Linked DNA regions of Homo sapiens: region 2 is linked to region 1. Evidence: fine-mapped expression QTL. A gene starts in region 1. The other region holds a variant in brackets. All regions are shown on one strand. Distances are between the middles of the regions. Region 1 holds the start of GLB1L2 (galactosidase beta 1 like 2). Region 2 holds the start of LOC124902798 (a long non-coding RNA gene).

Region 1 (2,755 bases):
TTCCAGATATTTATCTCCATCAAAAACTTCCCTGTCTCCCAGGGGAAGTGCAGAGAAACTAAGAACTTAGTTTCTCTAAGTAAAAAAGAAGCAAATGACAAAGCCGAGCGGCGTAGGGCCTGCCACCACTTCCAACCGTTCAGTTCATTCGATACTGCCGGTCGGCTTCCCACTGGAGGTTTTGAATATGGAAAGTGCTGACCTGAAAGATAGGGTCAGGGCTGTAGAATCCTTAAAATAAGCACAGTTTAGAAAAATGCTGGGCTAGGGCACCCAGAAAACTTTTTCACAGGCTGTGGGTAAATCACAGTATCACTGAAGCCACTCCTTTGCCATAAACAACATTTGGAAAAGGGGGAGAGGAAAGGGTGAGCTGGTAACAGGTGAATGGTGGGAAAGTGGAGAGAGACGACCTATCAGTCCTACTGTGCAAATAAATCATGGCCCGGGATCTTGGAGGCCCACGGACACTGTTCTTACGACCCTGCCAGGCCAGCTGGCTAGACCATACCTGCCAGGCTGAAGCGCCGGCCTCTGCGGAATAAGGCGCCTCCCAGAGGCTTGGGAGGAAAAGGGGGGCCTGGGGGAAGGGCAGAGGGAGCTCTCCGCGGAGCAGTGGGGACGGGGCCGCGATGGGGTGCGTCTGAGAGGGCTCTGACGGCTGGAGGGCTGCGGGCGTCCACGGGGGGCAGAGCCCGGCGTCACAGGCGCGGCGGGGTGGGCGGCTCGGGGCACAGACGCCGGCTCCCGAGGGCACGCCGGGTGTCGCCCAGAGGCCTGGATCGCGCGGCAGGAGTAGAGTGCCTGCAGCCGCAGGGGAACTCGGGGGTATTGGGGAGCTCCCAGAAAGAAGCAGCTGGGGCTGCTCCCCCCGGGAACTCGGGATTCGCGGGTCGCGGGAGGAGAGAACCCGAGGTGCGGAGGGCTGGGGAATGTGGGGTCCGGCAGGTGCTGCGCGAAGCTCTCTCTCACCTGCGGAGCACCAGGAAGCCCAAGACGACCAGCAGCAGGAGTCCCAGCGTGCGGGCCGGCCTCCGCCGGAGGCTCCACGTGGTCATCGCGTGTTCTCTAAGCGCGGGGACCCGGGTTCCCACTCCAGTCCGCACTCAGCCGCGCGCGGGAGCCTCGCCGCGGGGGGCGGAGCCGCGCACTGGTCGCCTGGGCAACCGGCCCGCCGGCGCTCATTGGCTGGGGCTCGCGGCTCCGCGCCTGCAGCCCTAGGCCTCGCGCAAGCGGGGGCGGGGCTGGCCGGGGCCGGGGCGGGGCCTCTGTCGGGGGGGGGGCGGGGCGGGGCTGGTGGGCGGGGACGAGGTCTCGGTAGGAGAGGGGGCTGGCGGGGGCGGGGCTGGCGGGGCGGGGCCCCGGCCGGGGGCGGGGCGGGGACAAGGTCTCGGTAGGGGACGGGTCTGGCCGGGGCGGGTCCCCAGTGTCGTGGAGCGGTGCAGAGTCCGCCGTCTTTCTGCTCGCGAGGCGCAGGCGGGTGCGGGAATGCTGCGTACCTGTCAAACGCCGAGGTAAAGTCGCCCCTCGCAGCGCTACATCAGGAAGAACGTACAAAAGGCGTCCGCAAAGCAGGGGCAACCAACAGAATCTTTTAAAACAATTCAGATTCTGAAGCAAACAACTTTTTCAATAACAAATCATCCTGTGAAAAGCCAGGATTTTGAAGAATTGTATCTGGACACATTTCAGTGTGGTTCATGTCTGAGGAGGGGGGGTTCCAAATATTTTCTGTCTTTGGTTTCTGCGAGTCTTACTCTGGCCTTGACTCCAAGGGCTTCCAATTTTTTATTTTAAAAAGGTCCATATAAAACTCTCACATTTTAGGAAAGGAAGAATATCATTCTTATTCTGAAACAGAATGTATGTCCCAAAGAACATGATGTAGTATTTCGGTGCAACTTACACTGTAGCAATCACAAACCCAACTCCTCCCGGGAACAAAATTCAGATTTTACTGAAAGAAACTCGAGGAAGGGCAACGTTTTCCAGAGCATCCGGGTTTGTCGAATGTCTCCCTTGCCGCATGCTTTGAATTCATTTCCTAAACGGGGGCATAGTTTTGAACTTGTAAAGCCGACAGGAACCAAATGAAATTGCAGATCTTGGAACAAAGACACAGACTTGGGTATGAAGTGTCCTTTGTCTAGCGTTAAGCACATATTTAGTCAAGGAGCAAAAGTTAAATCAAAGAGAGGCAAAAACAAACGAACAAACAAGAGGAAAAAAACCCTGGCAGAACTGGGGAGGATAAGCTGGGCTTGGAGCAATCCGGGTCTGACTTAAGCACCGCAAACATTCCCAGAGGCGCGCAGAGGGAGGCCCACTCCCGTGGACGCGCTCCAAGCCCGCTCCTTTTCTCCATTGGGTAAGGCTATGATTGCTTGATGGCTATGAAGTCTGTGATGGAAACATGTTGGTTTAATTGGAATATACCAGCTAGCCCCGAAGCGTGTGGAGAAATTGTCAAAGGCTAGCCCCTTTGCCTGCAGGGGACCATCCGAAAGACATGCACCCCACATTCATCCTCTCACTTCTGGTCACGTTGAACAGTGGCAGAATCTATCAAATATAAGGGAATTCTCAAATGGTTTAAGCAATACAAGCATCTCCATTTTTCTTCAAACGTTAGCAAAAACTTAACATGGGTTGTGAAAACCGTGAACTCCTTGGCCCACCCTTGTATCCTTCGTTTTTATTTGTGCGAGAAAAATATACATAACTGAGTGTTTTCAAAAAAATTTCCCCTTAACCT
Region 2 (3,011 bases), 45 kb before region 1:
TGAGAAAACAAGGCTCTCATTTTCAAAGAACTGACCCACTGACGAGAGGAGACAGGCAATAACGAATGCATATTATTTCAGATGCAATCTGTTGTATGGAGGATGAGGGTGAGTCGGGGAGACAGAGGTAGCAGTGGAGAGGGTCAGTGCTCTGTAGGGTGACCACAGAGGCCTCCGTGATAAGTGACCCTTGAGCGAAGCAGCAACACCCTGACATGCAGCTCCCCGGGCCCAAGAAGAACGAACTCTCCACCAGGCGGAACAAGCGTTGCTCAGCCTGCTTACAGATCAGCAGGAAGGCCATCGGGCTCAACTGACGGGGCGGGGGCTGCTGGGGGCAACAGCAGTGAGGGATGTGGTGGGCGTGGGAGAAGGGAGTCCCCAGGCACCGGGTGAAACCAGAAGGCAATAGGGGGTCCAGTACGGAGGACTAACATAATCTATCCATCTCTAAGAAGAACTGCCCTGCTCCTCCACGGAGGATAAATGGAGAGGGCAAGGGCAGGTGGAGACGTGGCTCCTGGAATCATCCAGGCCAAGATGCAGTGGGCTGAGTGGGGGCATGGGGTTGGGGCAGAGAGAAGCAGTCAAATTTTGGCCAAGTTTAGGAGGCAGAGCCAGGAGGATCTGCTGCTGGATTGGATGTGGGAGATAAAGAGAGGGGTCCAAAATAGCCCGAGACACAGAACAGCACTGCCATTTCCAGATACAGGGCTGCGTGCAGGAGGGGTAATGTGGGGAAATGGAGCTCTGTGTCAGGTGCCTGTTAGACACATGCAGAAGAAAATGCGCCCCCACACACCTGGAGCTCAGGTGCAGCCCAGCATCGGCGGGCGCGGGTGTCCAACCTGTTTACAAACCACAGGTGCACGGGTGAGACCCTATGCAGTGAGTGTGGACAGAGGAAAGAAACAGCCCAAGGAGTGGGCCAGAGACCCCCAGCATTCAGAGGCTGGATATGAAGAGGGATTCTCCAAAGAGACCTAGATGAGGCCATACCGTGTGGAAGATAATGGAAACATCTTTAGTCAACGCTGGAGAATAAGCTCTGCCAAGAGGTACTTTGATAGAGAAGCTGAGCAATTAACTGGCAGAAAATAAGGGTGAGAATAAGAAGCTGGTGTAGGAAGACCTCACCTTAGGAAACCACAGTGTGTCCTGCTCAGGTCTGCGTGGAAGTGTGATCCAAGGGGCTTCTCCACCTTACAGGAGGATTTGCAGGAAGGTTCCCTTCCATTCCATCACTTTCTGACGGAACCAGCTCATACACAGCTCTGCAGAAGCACACACTCAGGTAAAGCGGGGCAGAAGACCCTGCAGGTGGCTCAGGCCACACCCAAGTAGCCCGAGTCTCATCCACATCTTAGCCCCATGCTTGTCGTTCC[G/A]AGGCAGTTCCAGAAGAACTGGTGAGTTTGGGCAAAACCAGGGACTCTGCCCCATGTTGTTCCCAAGCCACTGTCCACAAGCTTTCCTTTAATAAGCTCCATTTAATAAGCCCTTGACCCGGCTCAGCTGCTGGGCTGCACACCACGAATGTCCCCTGCACTCCCCCTGGGCAGCCACACACGGGCAGCAAGCCTGCTGGCCTCAGTGAGCTCCACGGCTCACCATCCCCCAGCCCACCTTCACGGGGCTCCCAGAGCTCTCGCTGTGCCGGGGATGTGTGTGCTACTTGACTTTCTGACTCTTACTGGAGATAATTTGGTTTTGGCAGTAGATGCCAGATGTAGTTTGTGAAGCAAAACTCAACCCCGCAGTTAACTCATATGGAGCGCCCTTGACTGCCTGGCAGATTCTTACCCCCGCCCACCAGCATGAGAATGAATTTGCATTTGAACTGTCCTCTCCAGGGCACTTCCAATCCAGAGACATTTGAAGGGAAGTCGGGGTCAGGAGGGGAATATGAGGCCAGGATCATGGCCCACCCACCCCAGGGACGGTCCCCATCTGGACCCCCAGGCGGCAAGTGGGGCCCAATGGGAACCTGACCAAGAAAACCAAGCTCTCAGACAGCCTTCCCTTCTGGCAAGAGTGGCACACATGACCAGAGACTATCACCAGAGGGGGTGTGATTCAAGGTTATAGCTTTACTGCAACTCAGGACAGTGAGCCCAAGCCAGGTGTTGGGCTGGGCCCCAGAACAAGGCTCAAATGCGGACTTGGACACACTTCGAAGGAGGGCTGCTCTGCCCCTGCTGTTCGGGCGTGGGGGGTGGGGGGCGGGGGCCACTGAGCTGGGCCTTCTGTCCTCCTCCCTGGATGTGCAGACATGGGCCATGGCTTCTGCCAGGACTCACATGTGAGCTGGGCCTTCTGTCCTCCTCCCTGGATGTGCAGACATGGGCCATGGCTTCTGCCAGGACTCACATGTGAGCTGGGCCTTCTGTCCTCCTCCCTGGATGTGCAGACATGGGCCATGGCTTCTGCCAGGACTCACATGTGAGCTGGGCCTTCTGTCCTCCTCCCTGGATGTGCAGACATGGGCCATGGCTTCTGCCAGGACTCACATGTGAGCTGGGCCTTCTGTCCTCCTCCCTGGATGTGCAGACATGGGCCATGGCTTCTGCCAGGACTCACATGTGAGCTGGGCCTTCTGTCCTCCTCCCTGGATGTGCAGACATGGGCCATGGCTTCTGCCAGGACTCACATGTCCTCCTCACTGAACACCAGAGACACCTGCTAACTTGGGAAGACGCAGGGTGAGGATTTCTGTTTCTCCAGCCCAGCCTGTCACCCTGTGGGAAGCAGCGAGTGGGAAGGGAAAGGGGAAGTCACATGTTTCTCACGCCGAGTTCCTTCCAGAATCCCAAAGAAGGCTCAGAAGGTTGTGAAGGAAGAACAAAGTCAGCTCAGGTGAGACACCCCTTCCCCACCCTCTACACTGGTGACACACCCAGGATTTCGGGGATAAAATGGGGCCATGAGGGATGTGGCCAAGCCTCCCAGGAACCAGCAAAGAGCACGCCTGAGTCCAGCAGATGCTCGCAGGGCTGTGACGTCCAGTGCAAGGG

Evidence for each region. PIP is the estimated chance that this variant, and not a neighbour inherited with it, causes the effect.
Region 2: its variant is fine-mapped to the expression of GLB1L2 in tibial artery (GTEx, PIP above 0.99). The same link has a PIP of 0.9 or more in atrial appendage and prefrontal cortex.

What each region holds. Positions count from the first base shown.
Region 1 is chr11:134,330,365-134,333,119 of GRCh38, reverse strand. GLB1L2 (galactosidase beta 1 like 2) reads right to left here and starts at 1,132. Exons shown (of 19, transcript NM_001370461.1): 1 at 973-1,132. The coding sequence starts at 1,058. RefSeq lists a silencer at 983-1,282.
Region 2 is chr11:134,375,381-134,378,391 of GRCh38, reverse strand. It overlaps GLB1L2 (galactosidase beta 1 like 2), which reads right to left. Exons shown (of 19, transcript NM_001370461.1): 19 at 2,068-3,011. LOC124902798 (a long non-coding RNA gene) reads right to left here and starts at 1,596. Exons shown (of 2, transcript XR_007062961.1): 1 at 1,138-1,596; 2 at 51-328. RefSeq lists an enhancer at 1,032-1,931. The variant G/A (reference allele first, on the strand shown) is at 1,386.